Homo sapiens: one gene and its partner. The protein of the gene in region 1 interacts with the protein of each later gene in a biochemical or structural test. Each region holds a gene or a part of one and is shown in the gene's direction. Other genes may lie near its edges. The genes, in order: FOXO4 and NLK.

What was found.
Region 2: of the proteins of FOXO4 (region 1) and NLK, one has a biochemical effect on the other in vitro, tested with the Homo sapiens proteins (one study listed by BioGRID).

What each region holds. Positions count from the first base shown.
Region 1 is NC_000023.11:71,089,031-71,102,310, forward strand, and holds the start of FOXO4 (forkhead box protein O4), read left to right. Parts: upstream 1-6,820; 5' UTR 6,821-7,498; coding exon 7,499-7,951; intron 7,952-11,653; coding exon 11,654-12,710; intron 12,711-13,046; coding exon 13,047-13,054; 3' UTR 13,055-13,280. UniProt on the Homo sapiens protein: Transcription factor involved in the regulation of the insulin signaling pathway. Binds to insulin-response elements (IREs) and can activate transcription of IGFBP1.
Region 2 is NC_000017.11:28,162,549-28,175,070, forward strand, and holds part of NLK (serine/threonine-protein kinase NLK), read left to right. Parts: intron 1-994; coding exon 995-1,080; intron 1,081-5,899; coding exon 5,900-6,109; intron 6,110-9,968; coding exon 9,969-10,070; intron 10,071-12,522. UniProt on the Homo sapiens protein: Serine/threonine-protein kinase that regulates a number of transcription factors with key roles in cell fate determination. Positive effector of the non-canonical Wnt signaling pathway, acting downstream of WNT5A, MAP3K7/TAK1 and HIPK2.

The sequences.
Region 1 (13,280 bases):
TTGAACCCGGGAGGCGGAGGTTGCAGTGAGCTGAGATCCCACCACTGAATTTCAGCCTGGGCAACAGAGCGAGACTCCGTCTCAAAAACAAAAACAAACAAACAAATAAAAAACCTGAGGAATGAAGCATTGTGGATGTTATTTATGCAGGAGGCTAGGACCAAATTCATGTGGGTGTGAAGTGTAAGCTCAGGGCGACCTAAAATATAAAGGGCAACCTGGGGTCTCGAACCCAGATTGGAGATCACAGAAAATAGGATTTTAGAGCTAGAAGAGACTTTAGAGATCTTCTCATATATCACTCTCATTTTACAAATGAGTAAACCAAAGCCAGAAGAGTGAAACTGACTTGTTTAGGCTCTGGAGTCAGACTGCCTGCATTTGTGCCTCTACTCTACCACTTAGTAATTCTGGACCTTAAGCATGTCTCCTTATCCTAAGTCTCATTTTCCTCTGTGAAATGAAAACAGTACTACCATTGAGTTTATACATTTGTTGTGAGACTAAATGAGATAATCCACATAAAGCACTTAGCATGGTACCTAACACATAATAAAAACCCAATAAATGTTACTTATCAATATTAGTGTAATTAGTATCAATTTTTCAACTAGTTAGTGACAAAACTATGACAAGGACTCAGATCTCCTGACTCAATCTAGTGTTCTTTTCACTGCACCAGAGTTATGTCTATGGTCCAAAAAAGTGGTGCCAACTCAAGTCTATGTGGGGCTGGGCACGGTGGTGGCTCATGCCCATAATCCCAGCACTTTGGGAGGGGCCAAGGCTAGTGGATCACTTGAGGTCAGGGGTTCGAGACCAGCCTGGCCAACATGGTGAAACCCCATCTCTACTAAAAATACACAGAGTTTGCAGTGAGCCGAGATCGCGCCACTGCACTCCAGCTTGGTGACAGAGAGAGACTCCGCCTCAAAAAAAAAAAAATACAAAAATTAGCTGGGCGTGGCAGCGGGTGCCTGTAATCCCAGCTACTCAGAAGGCTGAGGCAGCAGAATTGCTTGAACCTGGGAGGTGGAGGTTGCAGCGAGCCAAGATCACACCATTGTACTCCAGCCTGAGCGACAGAGGAAGACTCCACCTCAAAAAAAAAAAAAAAAAAAAAAAAAAAAAAAGCTATTTGGGGCTAAAATCTGAGTACTTCACTCTAGGGTGCACTTTACGAGCAAGTACCAACCCTGATGTCTGGAAAATAGTAGACCCTTAAGAAATGTTCATTGGCCAGGTACGGTGGTTCACACCTGTAATCCCAGAACTGGGAGGCTGAGACGGACAGATCACTTGAGCTCAGGAGTTTGAGACTAGCATGGGCAAAATGGTGAAACCCCATCTCTATAAAATATACAAAAATTAGCCAGGAATGGTGGCACACATCTGCAGTCCCAGCTACTCAGGAGGCTGAGGCAGGAGAATCACTTGAACCCGGGAGGCAGAGGTTGCAGTGAGCCAAGATCGCACCAGTGCACTCCAGCCTGGACAACAGACTCTGTCTCAGAAAAAAAAAGTCATTAACTGAAAAGATATTTATTTATTTATTTAAGACAGGGTCTCATCCCAGGCTGGAGTGCAGTGGCACCATGATGGCTCACTGTAGCATCGATCTCCCAGGCTCAAGCAATTCTCCCATGTCAGCCTCCCGAGTAGCTGGGATTACAGGCATGAGCCACCATGCCCAGCTAATTTTTTATTTTTTGTAGTGATGGGGTCTCACTATGTTGCCTAGGTTGTGAAAAGATTTTTTAAAACAATAACAGACAGAGTTGGGAGGGTGGCTTCTAAAACAAGGACCAGGTTGGGCATGGTGGCTCACACCTGTAATCCCAGCACTTTTGGAGGCCAAGGTGGGTGGAGCTCAGTAGTTCCAGACCAGCCTGGGCAAAATGACAAAACCCTTTCTCTACCAAAAAATACAAAAAATTAGCCAGGCGTCGTGGTGCACACCTGTGTTCCCAGCCAGTTGGGAGGCTGAGATGGGAGGATCGATTGAACCTGGGAGGTGGAGGTTGCAGTGAGCCAAGATCGCGCCACTGCACTCCAGCCTGGCAATAGAGTGAGACCCTGTCTAAAAAAAAAAAAAAAAAAAAAAAAAAAGACAAGGACTAGAAATCTTTCACAGAAACACATAAGAAAAGACTTAGGGAAGAGAAAAAGCAAATATATGGACGTTCTATATACGTTTGTGAAGATCAGGGACGAATAGAGGTGGTACCTTCTGAGCGTCCTTGAATTTTTTTCATTGTTATTTGTGTTCATCTTTCCATGTGTTTATTAGCAAAAATCCTATAAAAACGCTACATGTGAATTGTGTGTTTCTTCAGAGCTGGGTAGAGTAAGAAGTGGGGAAATGTCAAACTCAATTCAAATTCATAGAGCCAGTTTGGCAAAAGACCTGTGGTAGGGGCGTGGCACCCAAGTAGAAGAGTGGGCGGTGGCAGTGAAAGTCAAGAGAGCCAAACCCCTATGACCTTGAAGAGGAAAAAAAACAAATTGTGAATGGGGGGACATTTGAGAAAATAAACTCTGGGGTTTCAAACTGGGAGAAAAGCCTGTGTCTTCTAAATCCTGCCATTATCTGTTTGTAGCTTACAGCTACGGTGGTTTCTGGGAGCCTCCTATTAATCTTGTTTCCTGCCCAATGTCTTTTTATTTTCCAAGACCATCTTGCTAATTCTGTCTCTTGACTAATGTTATTTTGCAACATTTTCACAGCTGAACAACCCTGACCTCTCTATCTGCATGCTTTAAAGTCATGATGGTGTTTTTACCATCCCACCAATCCTTTAGCTCGTCCTCCTAAATTATCTGGTCCTATGACGTGTGGTCATTTTTATCTGTCCAGGATTTCAAGGTGTACTCTCAACAGTAAAGGCTCCACAAACATCCGTTGATTGATAGTAGAGTTTATAATCTAGTTGGGGAGACAATATGCCCTCATGAAATGAAAAGCCATGTAAGCAGAAGCACAAAGTTAAAGAATACAAGCCGGGCGCAGTGGCTCACGCCTGTAATCCCAGCACTTTGGGAGGCCGAGGCGGGTGGATCACTGAGGTCAGGAGTTCAAGACCAGCCTGGCCAACATGGTGAAACTCCGTCTCTACTAAAAATACAAAAATCAGCCAGGTGTGGTGGCGCTCGCCTGTAATCCCAGCTACCAGGGAGGCTGAAGCAGGAGAATTGCTTGAACCCAAGAAGTGGAAGGTGCAGTGAGCCGATATCGCACCACTGCACTCCAGCCTGGGCGACAAAGCAAGACTCTGTCTCAAAAAAAAAATAAATAAAAAATAAAAATACAAACTGAGTTCATAGAGGTTCAGGAGATGCAAATTGGAGAAGTGGCCTGTCAGGTTGGACTAGTCAGGAAAAGTTTCCAAGGGCAGGTTAGTTTTGAGCTTTGAATTGTAAATTTAAGGAGGTGATGGACATGAGTTGGTGGAGAGGTGGACCTTTTCAAACAAATGCACAAAGAGAGACAATGCAAGATTTAACTCAGGCCAGGACAGGTGCCTGCCCCACCCTGCCATTTCCCTGTCTCAGTAACTCTGCATGATCTGCCATCATAGCTGTTTCAGTTAGAAGAGATCTCCTTGTGACCTAGTGCCACAAGGCTCTCTCCTCTACCAAATTCACCACTCATGCAGCACTTATCAGGCACCCTTAGCTGGGGTGAAGGAAAAAGGGGCATGTGCAGGGAATGTTTGCAGGCATCGTGAGCAACTATGTCTCATCTCTCTAGTCTGGACCTCAGATGGGAATATATGGCCTTTTGTATACACCTAGGTAACAGGTGGAGGACAAATGCATGTTGGAGCAGAAGAAGGCAGGAATATGGAGAACCAATATGGCTATTTTACCATGATCAGGCTAATATCACTTTGGAGGCCCAATGTGCTGCCACCGCTGAAAAATCCTGGGTTGCATGGATATCCTTCTGCACAGGAGGAAGGCCGCATCATCACAGAACACAATAGAAACACTGCAAGTGGCAGACAAGCCAAATTACAGTCCCTGCCCCTCAGAGGTTGCTGTCTAACAGTTGGAACAGGGCCAGGCAAAAAATGCATAGGACATGTTTATTTAAAAGTTGTTAAATGTCCAAATGCTATTTGTGATACTTCATTTAATAAATGATATTTGCCGAGCACTGTGGCTCACACCTGTAATCCCAACACTTTGGGAGGCCAAGGCGGGTGGATCACCAGAGGCCAGGAGTTCAAGACCAGCCTGACCAACATGGTGAAAACCCATCTCTACTAAAAATACAAATATTAGCTGGGAATGGTGGCAGGCACCTGTAATCCCAGCTACTCGGGAGGCTGAGGCAGGAGAATCGTCTGAACCTGGGAGGTGGAGGTTGCAGTGAGCCGAGATTGTGCCATTGCACTCCAGCCTGGGTGACAGAGCGAGACCCTGTCTAAAAAAAAAATAAATAAGAGCTCACAGTTTACTGGGAGAGACAGATAAGTAAACAAATAATTACAATACAATATAGTTTGTGCTATATAACATAAGACTGCACAAAGTGCTTAGGAATGCAGAAAAAAAAGGAGAACTAATCACACCTAAGGGAGACAGGGAAGGCTGAATAGGAGTTTTCCAAAATAAGAGACGTGGAGAGGAATGACAAGAGGGATGATATCCCAGGATGCAGAGAGAAAGGTATAAAAGGGCATGGTATTTCCAGGAAATAGTGTGAAACTCTGCTTGTAACTTAGTGTGCAGGAAAGGTGTGAAGTGGCCTGAATCTGAGGAGCCTGGCATGCCTTGCGAGGGAATTTGAACTTTATCACACAGGCAATGGGGAAAATCAGAGGAAGATTTAACCAGGGAAATTACATGATCAAAAAAACAAAATTTATAGCCAGGTGCGGTGGCTCATGCCTGTAATCCCAGCACTTTCAGAGGCCAAGGCAGGTGGATCACTTGAAGTCAGGAGTTCCAGACCAGCCTGAGCAACACGGTGAAACCCCGTCTCTACAGAAAATACAAAAATTAGCTGGGCGTGGTGGCACATGCCTGTAGTCCCAGCTACTCCCGAGGCTGAGATGGGAGGATTGCTTGAGTGCAGCAGGTCAAGGCTGCAGTGAGCCAAGATCACACCACTGCATTCCAGTCTGAGTGACAGAGCAAGACCCTGTCTCAAAAAAGAAGGAAAGAAGGAAGGAAGGAAGGAAGGAAGGAAGGAAGGAAGGAAGGAAGGAAGGAAGGAGAAAGAAAGAAAGAAAGAAAGAAAGAAAAAGAAAGAAAGAAAGAAAGAAAGAAAGAAAGAAAGAAAGAAGGAAGGAGAAAGAAAGAAGGAAGGAAGGAAGGAAAGAAAGAAAGAAGGAAGGAAAGAAAGAAAGAAATTATACGATCGCATGTAAGTTATATAATCCCAGTTCTGCCTCGTTGGGCAAGTCAATCTCTGAGCATTGTTAGTGTCTTCATCTATAAAATGCGGATAATAGTGGTACCTACCTCATGGGGTTGAATTGAGGAGTAAATGATTGAGGAGTAAATGAACTAATGTTCGTAAAGCAATTTGCACAGAGACTGGCACATAATAAGGGCTCCATAAATTTTAGCCATAATTACCAGACATGTTTCTTAGAACGGTAACCTTGCTGGCAGCTCTGAATATAAACTGTAGTGAGGTAAAGACTGATGGAAGGAGATCCAATTAAGATGATACTGCACCTTTTTTTTTTTTTGACAGGGTGTTATTCTGTCACCCAGGCTGGAGCACAGTGGCATGATCTTGGCTCACTGCAACCTCCACCTCTTGGGTTCAAGCGACTCTCCCACCTCAGCCTCCCAAGTAGCTGGGACTACAGGTGCGTGCCCCACACCAGGCTAATTTTTCTATTTTTAGCAGAGATGGGTTTCACCATGTTGGCCAGGCTGGTCTCAAACTCCTGACCTCAAGTGATCCGCCTGCCTCGACCTCCCAAAGTGCTGATATTACAGGCGTCAGCCACTGCACCCGGCTGATCCTACAATTTAAATGCAGTTATAAATAGGTCTTGAACTGGGATTTGGATGTAGAAAGTTACGGAGATGAAGAAGTAATGGGTAATTACCTCTAAGCTGCTGCTTGGAGCTTGGGAGACTGGGTAGATCAGGACTACCATAAGTCAAATTCAGAGATAAGGGTAGCCAGAGGATAGGGGTGCGGGTGCAGGAACAGATAATGAGTTTGGACCTGTTGAATGAGAAGTGAAGCCGTTGGAGATGTGAACCTGGAGAATATCGGTGTTGAAGGGAAAGCCAGAAGAGCCAGTGGAGGAAACTGATTGGTAAGTGAGACCTCACTGTCAGTGGGAACTGCATATGGGGGGATGAAGGCGGGTGGAGGGAGGAGGAAGGGGGTGAGGAGGAACACCACCGTGGGCTAACCATTTGTTTATGTTACACAAGCCCCCCACCCAACTCTCCAACGTGCATACATCCTATTTTCTAGTCAGTTCCTTGCTTCTTGCTTCTTGGTCTCCTGCATCTTTAAGAGAATAATTTTTTCCCTTTTGCCGTCTCCTAAATGAAGGAGGGAAAGGGCTAGCACCTCTCAATCTGGTCACCTACACGACTCTGAATCACAAGGGAGACAATGGAAAGGGGGAAAGGGCGAAAAACGATTCTTAAGAAAAGAAAGAGTCCGCGACGACTTCTAATAATTAAAGTTCCACCTCGTTATATCCTGCCACGCCGCTCTCCTGCCGCCGTATCGGGCTCCTGGCCGCGAAGCAGGACGGGAGATGTAGTCCTCAAGAGTGACCAGGGTGGCACGACTGCAGAACTCGGTTTCCCGACTGGCTTTCGAGGCGCGTGCGCAGATGGCTGCCCCGGCGAGTGGTAAACAGAGACGTCAGGAGGGGGCTGCTGCTTGGAGCAAAACAAAAGGGAAACCCGGGGGGCGGGGGGTGGGGGGGGTTGATAGGGGAATCGGTGCGGGAATAAGGGAGGCCGCAGCCGCGGGGACCCGGACCCTAGTAAGAGTGGCGAGAAGGGAAGAGGCGGGGGAAGGGGGAGTCAGGGGAGGGGCAAGTGACGCGGGGGAGCGGGGCGTGGGGGAGGGCAGCAATCCGGGTGGAGGAAATTTGGGAGGAGTGTCCGGGGGGCAGCAACTTAAAAGGGGGAGGGAACTGCGGCTAAGGAGACGTTCGGTGATGGGAGCGCAATATATGAGGGGATACAGTGCCTCAGGTTTAAAAGAGCAGGAAGCTGAGTGAGAGGTTGCAGAAAAAGTGTCTTCGCTCGGCAGAGGTTACAGGTGGCATCTCAGAAAGAGCTTTGAGGCTACAGGCTGTAGTCGGGAAGGGGATCGGAGAACTGTGTGAAGGGACAGCTTAGGGACTAGCGTCCTGGGACTAGGGGGAAGTTCGCGACTTTCTGAAGACTGGCAGGAATGTGCCTCCTGGCCCTCGATGCTTCCCCCCTGAGGGGAGGCATCGTGAGGGACTGTGGCAGGCTTCACTGAACGCTGAGCCGGGGAGGTCCAACTCCACGTATGGATCCGGGGAATGAGAATTCAGCCACAGAGGCTGCCGCGATCATAGACCTAGATCCCGACTTCGAACCCCAGAGCCGTCCCCGCTCCTGCACCTGGCCCCTTCCCCGACCAGAGATCGCTAACCAGCCGTCCGAGCCGCCCGAGGTGGAGCCAGATCTGGGGGAAAAGGTACACACGGAGGGGCGCTCAGAGCCGATCCTGTTGCCCTCTCGGCTCCCAGAGCCGGCCGGGGGCCCCCAGCCCGGAATCCTGGGGGCTGTAACAGGTCCTCGGAAGGGAGGCTCCCGCCGGAATGCCTGGGGAAATCAGTCATATGCAGAACTCATCAGCCAGGCCATTGAAAGCGCCCCGGAGAAGCGACTGACACTTGCCCAGATCTACGAGTGGATGGTCCGTACTGTACCCTACTTCAAGGACAAGGGTGACAGCAACAGCTCAGCAGGATGGAAGGTAATTATGACCCTCTTACCTTCTTCCCAACACCATCTACCCCCTGGACCCCCTAGCCTCCCTTACTTCTACTCTGGGGCCCCTTTTACTACCTCCCACCCCCACCCCCTTTGGGAAGCCCAGAGATCCACCTTCAATCTCCAGTTAGACAAACATTTACTTAGTACATAGTATATGCCACACTCGGTGCTTGATGCTGAAGGATCACAGATGAATAAGACACTGTCCCTGCCCTGGAGAAAATTGAATTCTCTGCTCACTGCTCAATATTCGCAGCACTTTGGCTTGGGCTGCCCCAAACACTTATTCCCACAGAGAAGTCTTTATCCTATGTACAGCAGGAACTGTGTGGATTCCCCACATGAACCTACCCTTCCCTCCTCCCCCACCTCCCACCCCAACACCTTTTCTCCCATTCCTGTGGGATTACTTGGATTCCCTGCTTGCCTCCCAGTACCTCAGTGTAGTGGTACTGTTCTAGCACTGCTCTACCCAGGAGGAGGGAGTGCAGTGGCAAAGGGTAAAAACAATAATATTCATGGGGAAAGGTAGCTGATCTCATGCACTAAGAAGAAAAAGGGCTGTGAGCTGCCACTTGGCTCAGCTTACCCTGTGCTGCCAAGAAACTCTCCCTTGTAAGGGGCTATCCAAGTTTTGGGGGGAAGTCATCCTTTACTGTTAAGGAATATTAGTCATGAAGAAGGAGGTAGGGCTCTGACTTTAGAGCACAAAGTTGGGAGTTCTCTTGGCCTTCTGTGAAGAAACTGTGAGAGAATATCTCAAAGGATACTCTGAAAAACTTGTCCTGAGAAAATATGGGGCTGTAATCACAAAATTGGGGAGCCTCAAGCCCTATTGCTGGCTTGTACCTCTCTAGGTGGTGAGGTCAGCATATAACCAAGTACAGAAGGTTGGATGAGCAGAGGAACTTCCCCTAGGTATAGGAGACTGAGGGATCAGATCTGTGCTATCCCTAGGGGCTGGGCAGAACAGAAGATAGGACAGCTGACTGAGACCCTTGGCACTATTTCTGGGTAGACTGCCACGCCACAGTCTCAGCTCATAAAAAGCTCCCCTCCTTGGACCCAGCCTACACAGCTGTTTTTCTTTTCCCTTAGGTTCATTTTCCAGGGTAGAGGAAATAACAAGTTGTTAGTTATATTGTGGGAGTATAGTCCGTCCTTATAATCTACACTTCTGTGGGGCTTTAGAGTTTACAAAGTAGTTTTTAAAGTTTTTATTTTATTAATCTTTACAGCAATTCTGAGATTCCACATTTTACACATTAGGAAACTAGGTACCAAAAGGTTAGGAAATTCACCTAATAACAGCAGGGTGAGGACTTGAACTCAGGTCTAACTATAAATCATATTCTCTAAAAAGAGCCTGGCTTGCTCTAATTGGAATGAGGGCAAAGTCAAATCAGGCTGAGCCTGGGACTTCAAGGCCCCCCCACCCCTCTCTGAGGGGAAGTCTCATGCCTGAACTGGCCTCCCTGATGATATGCCAAGGTTACTCCCACCCCACCAGGGGGCGGCACTCACTTAGAACAAGAAAGTTTAGATTAGGTGGCTTAGGGAGCAATTAGCAGTCACCCCCACCACCCTGCCCTCCAACATGTAAGAGTTATGGGCTTTTGGGAAACTGACCTCTCCAATTAAGAGTCTGTGTACCACTTGCTAGTTCCAAGGCCTAAAGAAGAGGAGACAAACGGGCCTTGTGGCTATTAAGTAGTAGGGAAAGGAATGGATCTTCTCAAGTAGATCCAGAATTAGAGGATAAAAAGAGGAGAAATCATAGTGCCAGGTCATGGTCATTGTGGTCCTTAGTTACTATGAGGTGAGGCCGGATGGACAAGTGCCACTCCTTGAAGGAACATCAGCACAGTTGAAATGCCATTACCTCAGGGTCCCAGGAACACAAGGAGTTCTTTGGCTAAAGAACCCTGGAACAAGAAGCATCATTCCCCAGGCAAAGGTGCTCCTTATCTTAAGAGCACCAGTCAGAGAAACAAGTAGTTTCTGACCGTCCCATGTACTCAGCCTCCTAGTTGCTCTAAGCACTTCTGGGCTCCTCCTGAATTTCTAAACTAAAGACCTCCAAGTGGGAGGTCAAATGCCCCCAAGGTTGAAGAGTTTATGCACAAATTCCTGAGAAATGGGGGAAAGGCACTGGGAAGGAGGTAGGGAAAAGAAGGCAGGTTTCGGGAAGGGGGGTGGCCAGGGGAGGGCCAAACCCCTTGTGTAACTAGCCTGCCCCGCGGCAATCAGTAAATATAAGCTGCACTGGGGGCTGAAGAAGCTGCCAATCTCAGCTCCCTGGGCCACTGGAAAGCATCGTTTCCCTAGTAGAATGTCACCAGTGAGGGAGGAAGGGAAAACATACAGCTTCCAATACCCAAGGCACTGAAGAGCTGGCAGAGCCTCAAGGGGAGCCTCACCATTGTCAACCCAGGGGCAACCCACCAATCAGGTACAAATATTGATTATGTACTGTGAGCTTGAGTAGGTATAGAATATGTGCTGTGAGCTTGGTGCTCTGGGAGGGCTTTGATGGGGGATGTGGGACTGGAGGACATTACACTTGGCACTTACACTCGATGAGACGAATTACATGAAACCATAAGCCACACAATATAAATTGGGTGAAATTGTGTGGCGCAGATTTTAAAAATACTATACTAGAAATTTGGCTGCCAAAGTCAAGCAGCCGCTTTATAAAAGAGGTGGAACTGAAGCTTGGTCTTGACGGAACTAGTAAAACTTAGAGAGGGGAGATCCCTCCTCGGAAAAGAGGGGAGGGGAAGATTGCACCTCACGCATTTGAGGCACAGCAGGAAGCCTGAACCTGAACTGAATGTAGTTGAGGATGTGTGTTGTGGATTGGAAGAAATAAGGCTGGGATTCAGGGAGGGGGGAAAAAGGAATCTTTAAATTCTATAGAGAGCTGGGTGGCCCAAATGCTCTGTGGGGAATGGAGCACCTGCTGTGCTGAGATTCCAGCCCTTCAGCCTATTCAGAGAACTGGCTCTGGGCAGGGCGGGTCCATCCTGGGCTGGTGCTGTACCACTGTCCCGTAAACTCTACCCAAACCTGCACTCAAGGAAAGGGGTGCAATGCTCTTTCCCACCTGAACCTAGTTCTTGCTGGGCAAGGAGCACGTCTCCCCAGTGCCCACCAGCCCCAGGTACCGCTCCCCCCACCCCCCGCAAAACACACACGAAGCCCTGGGAAGAGCAGAGTACCAGGAGCTTTTCCAGGGTGGGCATCCCCCGTGCTCTCTGCAGTGGATTATTACACGTTATCTCCCACCCGCTGTACAGAGAAGTCTGGAGCAGAGGCTGAGCAGCTTGTCTGGGAGCGGGAAATGTGTGTGGTCTCCCCTCACACCCCACCCCCACCCCTACTTCTACCAGTTTTCCCCCCTGGATTCAACTTTCTTTGAGTCTCCAGGAATACCCCTGCTGTGTTCCAGCACCCTTTTATCTTTTATCTTTTTCTCTTTTTTTGTAAATTATTTAAAGTTTTTCTTAAACTTTAATGACCTGGGAAATGAAGCCCCGAAATGAACCCTGCTGCGGTGGTGGCACCAAATCCTAAACCCTAGATCATCAGGGTCCAGCATCCTCTTAGACTTGACCGCTGGCCACTGACCTCCCCTACAGTACCTCACGCCCCTTTCCTGCCATCTCTGCCCCTCCAGAACTCGATCCGCCACAACCTGTCCCTGCACAGCAAGTTCATCAAGGTTCACAACGAGGCCACCGGCAAAAGCTCTTGGTGGATGCTGAACCCTGAGGGAGGCAAGAGCGGCAAAGCCCCCCGCCGCCGGGCCGCCTCCATGGATAGCAGCAGCAAGCTGCTCCGGGGCCGCAGTAAAGCCCCCAAGAAGAAACCATCTGTGCTGCCAGCTCCACCCGAAGGTGCCACTCCAACGAGCCCTGTCGGCCACTTTGCCAAGTGGTCAGGCAGCCCTTGCTCTCGAAACCGTGAAGAAGCCGATATGTGGACCACCTTCCGTCCACGAAGCAGTTCAAATGCCAGCAGTGTCAGCACCCGGCTGTCCCCCTTGAGGCCAGAGTCTGAGGTGCTGGCGGAGGAAATACCAGCTTCAGTCAGCAGTTATGCAGGGGGTGTCCCTCCCACCCTCAATGAAGGTCTAGAGCTGTTAGATGGGCTCAATCTCACCTCTTCCCATTCCCTGCTATCTCGGAGTGGTCTCTCTGGCTTCTCTTTGCAGCATCCTGGGGTTACCGGCCCCTTACACACCTACAGCAGCTCCCTTTTCAGCCCAGCAGAGGGGCCCCTGTCAGCAGGAGAAGGGTGCTTCTCCAGCTCCCAGGCTCTGGAGGCCCTGCTCACCTCTGATACGCCACCACCCCCTGCTGACGTCCTCATGACCCAGGTAGATCCCATTCTGTCCCAGGCTCCGACTCTTCTGTTGCTGGGGGGGCTTCCTTCCTCCAGTAAGCTGGCCACGGGCGTCGGCCTGTGTCCCAAGCCCCTAGAGGCTCCAGGCCCCAGCAGTCTGGTTCCCACCCTTTCTATGATAGCACCACCTCCAGTCATGGCAAGTGCCCCCATCCCCAAGGCTCTGGGGACTCCTGTGCTCACACCCCCTACTGAAGCTGCAAGCCAAGACAGAATGCCTCAGGATCTAGATCTTGATATGTATATGGAGAACCTGGAGTGTGACATGGATAACATCATCAGTGACCTCATGGATGAGGGCGAGGGACTGGACTTCAACTTTGAGCCAGGTACAGTACCCCCTAATCACCACAGCACCTCATAGCCTATTACCACTCCTAGGTGCCCAGCTAGTCCCATGATCTGGGCGAAGGGGAGATTTAGGACAAGTGGTAGCCAGAGCTCCTGGGGAACTGGAGGGAAGATGTCATATTACAGTAGCATAGTTTCCGGATGGGACCTCCAGGCCCCTTAGCTGTGCCCAGCCCTGCAAGGTAGCACAGAAAAGGTATGTGTATGGAAGCGGGTTAGGTGCCACCATCTTCTTTGGTGGGAATCTGGATGATAGAATGTTGGCAAGCCCCAGGTAAGCCTCTTACCTTGTTCTCTGTTTCTTCTTCCCACAGATCCCTGAGTCATGCCTGGAAGCTTTGTCCCCTGCTTCAGATGTGGAGCCAGGCGTGTTCATATCTACTCTTTACCCTTGAGCCCTCCCCAGGAATTTGGGACCCTGCTTTAGAGCTAGGGTGGGGTCTGGTCACACACAGGTGTTGAAGAAATTATAAAGATAAAGCTGCCCCATCTGGGGACGATATGGGGAGGGAGATGGGAGGGGAAAGGGGAGAGGGTTTTTCTCACTG
Region 2 (12,522 bases), on another chromosome or scaffold:
ATCGAGTGAACCCAGGAGGTGGAGGCTGCAGGGAGCCAAGATCGCGTCACTGCACTCCATCCTGGGCAACAGAGTGAGACTCCGTCTCAAAAAAAACAAAAACGTTCACCTCTAAGATTTGTTCATATTCTATGGTAGGGGAAAATGGGGAAGATATTGGCTCTTTTTGTACTTGTGAAAAATGTGATTTGCTACATTTTATCCAAAAAAGACTCAGCCCATTAGCCGGATATGGTGGTACATGCCCGTAGTTCCCACTTCTCAGGAGGCTGAGATGGGAGCATGGCTTGAGCCAGGAAGGTCGAGGCTTCAGTGAGCTGTGATCATACCACCACACTCCTGCCTAGGTTACAGAGCGAGACCCTGTCTCAAAAAAAAAAAAGAAAAGAAAAAAAGAAAAACGCACACAAAAAGGACTCAACCTTGAGGCTGGGACCTTTAGCAGTACTGAATGAAGACACTGGTCTTCTAAGATTTCACAAATATTTTTAAAGTGGTTCATTACCCTCTTGATTCTGAGCGGTAAAGAATACTACTGACAGTGTGGGCAAGTTCCTGAATTTTGTTCTATCAGTGAAACATCTGTCCTGGGAAAGGCTCCCTGTAGTAATGGAAACTGTTTTGTTGGAGCAGGCTCCGAGTTGCAGGTTAAGAGTATCAATAGCAGCAGTCCAATAGCCACACTGACTAGCAATCTAAGGTTATTAGTATGGTCTTAACTCGAGTGCCTAAGAAGCTTATCTGTATTTAAACCTACATAATTGTTTAAATTATAGACATTATCTCTAGACTTTGCAAACCTTTGGTGACATTTTATTTTACTGTAGCAAAATTACGGTATTTTGAGGTGGGACTAGCTTTTAATAATGTTCATTATGCAGTTATTTAGGGAACAATTTTAAATCCTCTACTGTTTTCTTCCAAGGTTTTTTTTAAATTATTGGTTGAGTAAAAGGAATTAAATATCTGCAATTAAATCTGTTTGTTATTTCAGGTTTGAAATATCTCCATTCAGCTGGCATTTTACATCGAGACATTAAGCCAGGGAATCTCCTTGTGAACAGCAACTGTGTTCTAAAGGTAGCTTTTCAGTTTATTTAAATACCTGGGAAAAATCAGAATGTCAGGGCAGGTTTAAGAACAACATATTTTTGTGAAAGAAAGAAGTTCATTTCCATTACTTTACCAAAAGTTAACCCAGTTTTCTCCATATCACTACTCATAGCCATGGTAATAATTTGTAGTCCTGCCTCATGTTCTTTTCATGATATTTGGCCTATGTTTTAGAAACACTGAAATTGGAATTGTAGTGTAACTAGAAAGAAGAATAGACAAGGTGACTCCTTTACAGCTTGTTCCATTATTAAAAGAAGTGCATATCAGAAGAAATATTAGAACAGCAAGCATCTGTTTATATAAGAGAATGAAGTGTGACTTTTAGGAAGACCATTTACATTTTTACACAGCTAACATATCTATATGCTGTTTGACCAAGGTAGCAAAGTAAGAAGTAGAAACATATTTAAAAGGGATAGTGCTGGCCAGACACGGTGGCTCATGCCTGTAATTCCAGCATTTTGGGAGGCTGAGGCGGGCAGATTGCTTGAGCCCAGGAGTTCAAGACCAGCCTGGGCAATGCAGCAAAACCCCATCTCAATAAAAAATTCAAAAATTAGCTAGGTGTGGTTGCACATGCCTGTAGTTCCAGCTACTCAGAAGGCTGAGATGGGAGGATCACCTGAGCCCAGAGCGTGAAGGCTGCAGTGAGCTGTGATCACACCACTGCACTTCCACCTAGGTGACAGAGTGAGACCCTGTCTCAAAAAAAAAAAAAAAAAAAGTGAAAATGCCAAACCAGAAAAGGGTAATATGCATCTATCCAATGTATTTCCATAATGTATAGTAGCCAATTCTTAATTATTCCTCTGAAGAGGAATTGATTACAGAATTATATTTAGTAGTTCCAAAATTTCAAGTCATCAGTTTCAGTTTTACTTCTCTTCCCTAGTACAGCCATTGTCTTTCATTTAAAAAGGGGCTTGCAAATAGCAAAGTCCACATATTTGTATTTCCCTACCTCTAATACAGATGTGTATTGGCAGAACTCTTGAATAGAGAGAGGTCCACTATATTTTTCCTCATAATAGAAATTGGAAATAAGGGCCTTTAACTGCTATATTTGAAAAGAAAAATAAATTTTTAAAATGTTACCCACTTTAAAAGTAATCAAGACTATCATTATTACTTAGGTTGCTGGCGGTTAAACTAAGTAATAAAACCAAGTGTATAAATAAAATTCATTTTTTATTTTAAATGATTTCTCTGAACTGTAGGTCAGTTCTCTTGAAAAGCTGGTGGATTATACTGCTTATGAATGAAAATTCTCCCTTCATTATAGCCTTGAAGAACCCTCACCCTTATTTTAACTCAAGAAAGATGAAAACCTATTTTTCATATTTTCCCTAAAAATAGCTGATGTTGTAATTCAGTCTTTTGTTTCCACAGAGAAGTTAATTGCCACCAAAATCTACTAAAGTATTCCTTCTATAGGTTATTGAGTTTTTCCTGCCACCTTTTCACTTTTTAAAGAGAACTTGCAACCTATCCCCATAATCGTTTTTTAATTAAAAAAAAAATTTAAACCTTATAGTTAGAAATTTTTTTGTCCTATTCATACCTAATCAATCTTACGACAGTTTAAGCCAATTTCTTCTTATTTTGGTTTTTGATTGGAAGACTTCACACAGGATTTTGTGCAGGACCTGTCATGTTTGATGCCATTAACTGCTTGAAGTTCATTTTCCAAATTGTCCGTTATGGTTTTATAACCTTGGACTGTATGAATGGGCAACTAAAGGAAAATGCCATTTGTGAATACACAACACACAAATCAGAACAAACAAATTTTGCTCCACTCCTTTGACTCATCTTATGGGCCTACTTTTAAAAAGCCAGAATAGAGTCTAGGCTATAGACACTAGTTCTTTCTTCTCAAACATACAAATTCATTGAAGATCATTATAACAAAACATTTTTTAAAAATCAGTATCCTTCCATATCGTGAATGTATTTTGTTTCCTATTAAGCACAAGATGGATAATTTTGCTGGAATTTTTTTAGTTATCTGATCATGTAAGCTTCCTATTTTGGACTCAGGTTGTCTTCCAAATAAGTTGCTAAAAATGACGAAATCATACTGATGTTTTTAATAAGGGATTTGCTTTATAACAGAAGGCCTTTTTTTGTTGGATGGGTGGTTGGTTGGTTTTTCTCATATAAATATGAGAAAAAAATTATGTTCTTTCCTTTTGTTGGTTTGGTTTTTAAAAATATCCTCAAGAGTCATGGCCAAGTAATAGAGTTTTTAAAATATTATATGTTATTTTGGCCGGGCGCAGTGGCTCACGCCTGTAATCCCAGCACTGGGAGGCTGAGGTGGGCAGATCACTTGAGGCCAGGAACTTGAGACCAGCCTGGCCAACATGGCAAAACCCTGTCTCTACTAAAAATACAAAAATTAGCCAGGCGTGGTGGCGCATGCCACTAGTCCCAGCTGCTCAGGAGGCAGAGACACGAGAATCACTTGAACCTGAGAGGCAGACGTTGCAGTGAGCCGACATCATGTCAGTGCACTTCAGTCTGGGTGACAGAGTGAGACTGTCTCAAAAAATATATATATATATATGTTATTTGAACATATTTGATGAACTCGGGCTTTTGTTGTTATGTTATATGGTTTATCTGTATAGTATGGAAAATTTTCCTGCTTTCTTAAGTTGTAAAGATGGTGGCTTCATACTGATTCATTCCCACATACACATCTGAATTCATTTGATGTAACCAGACATAGTAGATTCAAATCAGAAAGAGGGGATTGCCAAAAATTGGGGGATAAATTTTGTTTTCTTTAGAACGGGGTTTTCAGATTTTCTTTTTAAGCTGCCGGAACTCTTTTTCAAATAAAATCTTATTTGGGGACTTCAATTTAGAAAACAGATTTAAAATCATATTTTATCACTTGCAATATTGTGACTTGTAAAGTTAATCAGTGAGAACACTGGAGCTTAGATGGCCATTACTATCTGATCTCATCCTCAGTGCTCCTAGTTGTGTTTTGATTGCCCAATATCAAGAAAATTTTAATTCCTAAAGATAAGTAGTAGTTGCTGGTGGTGGCACGGCTGCTGTTTATTAATAGCTCACCTTGTAACCCTCAGCATACTTTTCAGTTGAGCAGAAATAGCAAGAAAAGATTTATTTCTAAGTTTGTATAGAAGTTAACCTGTCTTTATTATTTATTGCTGTATCTCCAGATTCTAACATACAGTCTGTAATATAACAAGTACTAACTTAAATATTTATGGCATGAAGAAATGAATGAACCCCATAGCATTAGTATTCTACCATATACTGCATTTTAACATATTTATACATTTGAGTATGAATTTGTATTTTAAATAGATAGGTACATGTGAAGTTTGGATATAATATTCATGGAATGCCTAAAGTCAGAAGTAGATTCAACTGGAGTCAGTTTGAAACCCATTGCTTTAAAGAAATTCACATATATTTCATAAAGACGACAGACACAGTCTCAGCTAAGGAGACCTTCAAGATACACCCCTTTATCTTATGATATCTTCCTCTCTAAACTAGTCTTGAAAGTAATTGGTTTTGTGGGGGTTTTTAAATTTTTTTTAAAGATAGGGTCTCAATCTCACTCTGTCTCCCAGGCTGGAGTGCAGTGGCACAGTAATAGCTCACTGTAGCCTCAAACTCCTGGGCTCAAGCAGTCCTCCCACCTCAGCCTCCAGAGTAGCCGGGACTACAGGTGCACACCACCACGCCCAGCTTTTTTTTTTTTTAATTGTTTGTAGAGTTGAGATCTTGTTATGTTGTCCAGCCTGGTCTTAAACTCCTGATCTCTCAAGCAGTCCTCTCAATCCCTGGGATTACGGGCATGAGCCACTGTGCCTGGCCAACAGTTGGTCTCTAAATCAAACCTACAAGTATGCATTTGGCCAGGTGCAGTAGCTCACGCCTGTTATCCCAGCACTTTGGGAGGCCAAGGCAAGCAGATTGCTTGAACCCAGGAGTTCAAGACCAGCCTGGGCAACATGGCAAAACCTCATCCCTACAAAAAAAAAAAAAAACCCACAAAAATTAGCCAGGTGTGGTAGCACATGCCTGTAGTCCCAGCTACTCAGGAGACTGAGGTGGGAGGAGCCTCAGATCGATCACGCCACTGCACTCCAGCCAGGGAGACAGAGTGAGACCCTGTCTAAAAAAATAAATAAAGTCGTTTACGTTCACCTAGTTTTTTTTGCTTCGATTATCAACTGAAAACAGACATGTTTTTATTGATAAAGATGAGAAGAATATTTTTAAGAAAATGATGTAAGTTTGAGACTTTTTTCCTCTCTTAACCAAATAAAACCAGATTGTATATTGACATAAATATACTATACCTATATCATTAAAAATGTTCCAGAGTGGCCGGGCGCAGTGGCTCACACCTGTAATCCCAGCACTTTGGGAGGCCAAGGCAGATGGATCACCTGAGGTCAGGAGTTTGAGACCAGCCTGGCCAATATGGTGAAACCCCTTCTCTACTAAATAATACAAAAAAAAAAAAAAATTAGCCAGGCGTGGTGGTAGGCACCTGTAGTCCCAGCTATTCGGGAGGCTGAGGCAGAAGAATCCCTTGAACCCAGGAAGCAGAGGTTGCAGTGAGCTGAGATTGTGCCACTGCACTCCAGCCTGGGTGACAGAGTGAGACTCCATCTCAAAAAAAAAAAAAAAAGTTTCAAAGTTCAGTGCCCTATCAAAATTTTGATGTTTTGTTTTACTCTTTCATTTGTATTTGCTTGATAATGTTTTGATTGCCTTTTCTGTCTAGATTTGTGATTTTGGATTGGCCAGAGTGGAAGAATTAGATGAATCCCGTCATATGACTCAGGAAGTTGTTACTCAGTATTATCGGGCTCCAGAAATCCTGATGGGCAGCCGTCATTACAGCAATGCTATTGACATCTGGTCTGTGGGATGTATCTTTGCAGAACTACTAGGACGAAGAATATTGTTTCAGGCACAGAGTCCCATTCAGCAGGTATGATTTCAATTTAAGGCTTTAGTTGCAATTCTATTGCAGATTTGAAGGAAAATCCATCTTGCACATGTGTCTTGGGCTTATTCATTATACTGTCTAATTTGCTTTTAGGAAATTCAGGTTCACTTAAAATTCAGAAAGTTATAAAGTTGAAGATTACAAAGAGATTCATTTTGTAACTTATGAGCCTTTAGAGGGAGTATTGAGTTTATTTATGTATTTATTTATTATTATTATTATTTTTTGAGACGGAGTTTTGCTCTTGTTGCCCAGGCTGGAGTGCAATGGTGCCATTTTGGCTCACTGCAACCTCCACCTGCCAGGTTCAAGCGATTCTCCTGCCTCAGCCTCCCAAGTAGCTGGGATTACAGGCACGCTCCACCACACCTGGCTAGTTTTTGTATTTTTAGTAGAGACAGGGTTTTGCTGTATTGGCCAGGCTGGTCTCGAACTCCTGACCTCAGGTGATCCACCTGCCTCAGCCTCCCAAAGTGCTGGGATTACAGGCATGAGCCACTGCACCCGGCCAGTTGACTTTATTATATGCACTGATGCATAGCTGTGAGCTCTGCTATGACAATTTGCACAGGTATAATCTTCAGTTGTTAGAAGGCCTCTCTTCCTTCTAAGTGAATGGCTCTGACTTGAAAATGTATTGGTGACTTAATGTACTTACACTTTGTGCTTAGAATATAAATTTTTAGTGTGTTGATTTCTTGAAATCTGAACATTTAGGAAAATTTCTAACCTTTATTATTGGACTAAAATATCTAAATATGGCAGAGAACATCAGGAGATGATTAAAATATAATTTCCTCAGAGAATCCTTTAGAAGCCATTCATGTTACTTGAATTGTCTTTAAAGCTAATTATTCACTAATACACATATTGACATAATTACTGGGTATTTTGTATTAATTTGCTTGCATGAAAATAATGTAGTAACTATGAGCTCAGGCTGTGAAATCAGATTGGTGGGTTCAAATCCTAGCTGCACCACTTATGTTAAATCTTGGGTAAGTTACTTAACCTCTGTGTTCCTTTTTTTTTGCTGCTTCTTCTTCTTTTTTTTTTTTTTTTTTGGCCCCTAAAACTGTTCTGAGGATTGTTGTACAATGAAGTAGGAAAGCTGAAAACGGGGCCTGGCACATAGTAAGCACTCTGTAAATGTTTGCAATTACGATGGTGGTAGTGTGCCAGGACTCTAGGGATACAGCAGTAAATAAGACAGCATTGTTCTTAACCTTTGTGAAACTTTTACATGAGACAAAAATAAATATGCAAATAAATATGATTCCAAGTAATGGAAGTTCCATAAAGAAAAATGTAGCCAGGTTAGGGACAGACAATGGTGGCAGAGCAGAGCAGGCACTAAAGGATTCTCTGAGGATATAACATTTCACCCACATAAAATAAGGCAGTAAGATGCTGGAGAAATGTTCCAAGAAGAGGGACAACCACCATAACAAAGCCCCTGAGGCAGGAACAAGCATGGCATGTTGGAGGGAAGGTATGTGATGGAAGACGCTGTAGGAAATGAGGTCAGAAAGTGAGAAAGAACCTGGCCATGGTGACATGATAAAGCCTTAAGATTTTATTCTAAGTGTGATAGAAAACTTAAATGAAGGTTTTGACCAAAGGAATACTAAGATTTGATTGATGACATTTTAAAAGATCACACTGACTACTGTGTCTTTGTAAATAATTAATGCACTTGACCAGACAGAATTATTTCTTTTATGCTTTTTCTACAAAGAATTTTTACCTAATATGTTAGAAACTATATCTGCTTTTATCAACATTTAAATTTTTCTATGCTATACGTTTTAACTGTCTTTTTTAAAGTTTACATCTTAAAAATTGATTCTGGTGTTAAAAAAATTATGTACATATAATACTTAATCTAATGTTGGGTACTTTTGACAATATTCACTTTTCAATTTCTTCAGAAAGTAAAGTTTAACAGACTTAACCTGTAAGACTATCATATCTGGACATAAGCTGTCATAAAATGGATGTGACTACTACCTTGCATACAGAAAAGCTTAAGTAAAAAATAATAAGGAAGTATTCAAATCCTATATATGGAACAAGAATCTTGAATTGCTGCTGCAAAAAATATGTGAGGGAAAGTGTGAAGCAACTGGACTGGAGTTCAGATATCCCTTTGCTAGAGAAATACATAGATCTTCAGTTTGGCAGTCTGACATAGCCACTGCAGGAGAATTCATGTCTGTCTAATTGTTGGTGTGTGTTGGGGTGAGAAATGAAGATCTAAAATAGGAAAAGGCTCTAACTTCTAATGGAAGTCATTATTTCCTGTTGTATTTTCTCTGTATCTTTGAGATTTAATTACCCTGGTACTAGCAGACATCATAAAAGTGTTTCTCATGTATGGATCTGACCCATTTTAGACAACTTTCTGAATGTTTCAGTTTGTTTTTATAAGCTAGTCATTTCCTTCTGCCTTTAGTGTGGTTGTTAGAGATCCAAAAGTATCACCTACACACTTTTCCCAAAAAGCTTTGTATAGAGATCTTTATTTCTGTGGAAAGCAAGCTTCTCAAGTATCTCCATTAACCTGTAGGGTGTTGATGCTGATGGCTACCCCATGGTTTAGATAAGTGCAGAAAATAGTGCTTTATATTCGGCAAGCCCAGAACCAGGAAAAGAAGTGTTCTCTAGGTAAGAATTTCCCATCCTGGAAGGATCCAAATGAAATGTTATTGCTAATTAGGTTATGAAGTTAGAACAATTGTGACACTACAGAAAATTGGTAAGATAGTTTGCTACCCAAAGACTTGTTTGCAAGAAGACTGTTTTATTGGTCTCTTTTATTGTGTCCAGCTAGCTAAATGTGGTCTTATGTGGTGTCATATTTTTCTAAGTGTCACAGTTTTCTGCCAGCGTAAGAGATTTCTAGCATGACTAGAATGTAAAGGATGTGTACTGGCCCAAGCATGGAGAGCTTAGCTTTCATTTCAGGTGTGAATATTTTCAGTATTTATTAAATCACAGGTGTCTGATTTGTGGATTAGCACCTTGGTGAGCCTGAATCCATTTGAAGCATCAGAATCCATTCATTAACTGTTTGGAAAGAATAGTCATTAGGCATCAACAGAAGAGGAGTTCAACTTTGCAAAGATCTTAGATGCTATGGTATCAAGAAAACAGGACAGACATGCAGACTCCCAAATTGCTATAGCCTTAGAATGTCATGCTTATCAAAACATATTTTCTATATTTCTATCATATAAATAGGAACTTTTAAATAAATAAGTAGGAACTTTTAAATAATAGGATAAATAGGAACTAAATAATAGAATAAATAGGAATAGGATAAATAGAAATAGGATAAATAGGAATGGAATATATAGGATAATCCTATATATAATAAATAATATGTTAAATAGGAATAGGATAGATAGGAACTTTTAAATAATAAATAGGAATAATAACAGGAATTTATTTAAATTCCTTTACATGAGGAATTTATTTAAATTCCTTTACATGAGGAATTTATTTAAATTCCTTTACATGAGGAATTTATTTAAATTCCTTTACATGAGGAATTTATTTAAATTCCTTTACATGAGGAATTTATTTATTTTAAATTCCTTTACATGAGGAATTTATTTATTTTAAATTCCTTTACATGAGGAATTTATTTATTATAAATTCCTAGAAATCTTTTTTAATAGGCCAGAAAGTGAAAGTAGGGGCTCCTGTCAGTTAATCTAGAGCTTGTCTTAAGGTTTTTTCCCCCAGATTTGGTCCACTTCTCTAAGGCTATGATTTAAGAGTAATGAAAAGTTATTTCCATGAGATTACTATCTATCTGTATTTTATTTCCTTGTAGTTGGATTTGATCACGGATCTGTTGGGCACACCATCACTGGAAGCAATGAGGACAGCTTGTGAAGGCGCTAAGGCACATATACTCAGGGGTCCTCATAAACAGGTGAGAGGAGGGGGGAATCTTTTTCTGGTAACCATCTGTTTGGGCAAGATTTCCCTTCCAATAGAGTAATCTATTAAGGATTTTTAAGCAAATGTATTATCTGTAGGATTTTTTTTTTTAACATCAAGGTCCTAAGTAAGAAAATGTTCAATATTTGTCAAACTGAATAAAATCTCATTCCTAATGCCGTAGGAGAAAGTGCGTGTTTGTGTAGCTCCTTTGCTAATAGATGACCCTTGGCTTTGTGTCTCCTGATTTATTGGTGTCTATGGGAAAAATTACTGGAGATGGAGCTTTGACCTCAATGCCATAACCTACTACATGTATATCAAGATGTCCTTTCCAAATACTGAGCCAAAATACCTCGTATTTCTTATTCCAGCCAGGACTGTGAAGCTGTTGCTATTGCACTCTTGCCACTAACACAGAATCAGATGTGAACGTTGTTAGAAAAGAAGTATGAAGATAGATTGCCAGATTTGCACTCATCAGTATTACTTGCAACTAGCCAAGTCACTGCTGAGAAAGACAAAATGGTTTTTTATCTCCACCTGTTGATTTAGCAACAGTTTTTACAAGCACTTCCTTATCTCCTTTGGACAGAACAGCTTAATGATGTGAAGAGTGAATAAGGGGAATACTTTTCCTAGGAGCAACAAATTAAAACAGAACAGATAAGACTTGAACAGGATGACCCAGCAACAAATTTTCCTGAGTTTTGGTTTCTTTTGAATTGGACGTTTAGATTATCTGATTGATGGTACCAAATGACAGAGTGAATTTGACACTCCTCCTCTCAAACTGTCAGCCAGACATTTGCAAAGGGAAGGTGGCAAAGGGAAGACCTCACCTTCCCTTTGCGGTTCTCTCTTTGTAATTCTAGTGTGACTCCAGAGCTTTTGTTGTCACAGGCATAAAGGGCAATGAGGTAAAGTGTGTTCTCTTCTAAAACCAGCCCAGGCTAGTAAATAGAGATGTATGCTTGTATGTTAAATAGCCCTCTGATGGTTACATGTTTCTGTTGCATTTGGTTTAGAACTGTAAAATAATATGAGGCCCTAACACCTTGAGAAGAGCACAGTAAGTCTTAACCTAGAGGAAAGTTCTATATTATAGAAGGAACTAACAAGATCTATTATGTTCCATTTATTGGCCAGCATCAGGAACATAAAACTAATTTACTAATGCCTCTTGGTAAATGTGTCCTTAGAAGTAGCAAAATAATTGTCCTCTTTCACTGACTTCATTAATTAGTAAATCTTGCCTGGTTCAAGGTAAACAATAATGAAGAGTGAAGAAGATCAGACACCCTTATGCTACCCTTCTGTCTCTAGAGGAGTTTTAACTGTTGTTAATGGTTGCTAGTTAATTAATCATCTGTGTCAAAGAGTTGCTAAACAGCAGCCTGAAGAACAAGGTTTCCTGAGGAGTTTCCTGTCTGCTGTCTAGATAGAACGGCTGGAAAATGTAACCTACTGCACCAAAAGTCACTGTGCACTGCTCTGAGCATTCCTGGCAATTGAGTACTTTTTCTGTGAAAATTTTAAAAATCTGTTAGTTGTAAAAACCTAAGACTTTCCATGAAATAAAAAAAGGGTAAATATATTATTTTGTAAAGCAAAAGAAGAGGAAAGGAAAATCCAAAGTTCCACTATTATTTAACTAGTTAAATAGGTTGAGATGTCTAAACAAATCATTTCTTATATATTTTGCTATTAATTGGCCTCTTAACAGTAATCCCTTTGCTTATCACTGAGTTTAGTGATGACCTTAAGGGAGCACTGTGGTAAAAGTTAGGGGCAGCCCTTTCCAGTCTTGGTGTCGGCATATTTTGATTTTGAAGAGAAGACTGGTGGAGTGAAAACTAGTTAGGAGGCCATTTCCGCTTAATGGCTAGATGCACTTTGCAGAGACTTTAAAGTCTTTAAACGGCTTTTATCCACTGCTTGAAGTGGTCTCCTTAGGCAGATGTTCATGGTCTTTTAGCACTAATCCAGCTAGATGTGTATAAAGTTATACCAACAATACATAATTGAATGTAAATAAACCTAGCATATTGCCTGCTTCCACTTTTCCTCCAGTATGGAAATTCAGTTTTTGATCTATGTTTGCTAGTTGATCTTTATCATCGCTACTCTCATGAGATGTCAACAGGTTCTTGAAGCTCTTTACTTAAGCCACCAATCAGATTCTACCTTTTCACTTCCCACTCCCTGCCCACTCACCAACCACATGATGCATATCCTGTGTGCCTCTTGTTGGCCTATTAGCAGCTGCTTGAAGGTATTGCCATTCATGTTATAGCTATTTACAGCTGAGGTTGGAAGACACCTACACACGATTATATTTGGTATGTAGCCACCTGGATTTTTTTTTTTTTTTTTTACTTTAAAAGATTAATTTGGTCTTTGGAATATACAATATAGCTTATGTTTTGGTACATCATGACTTT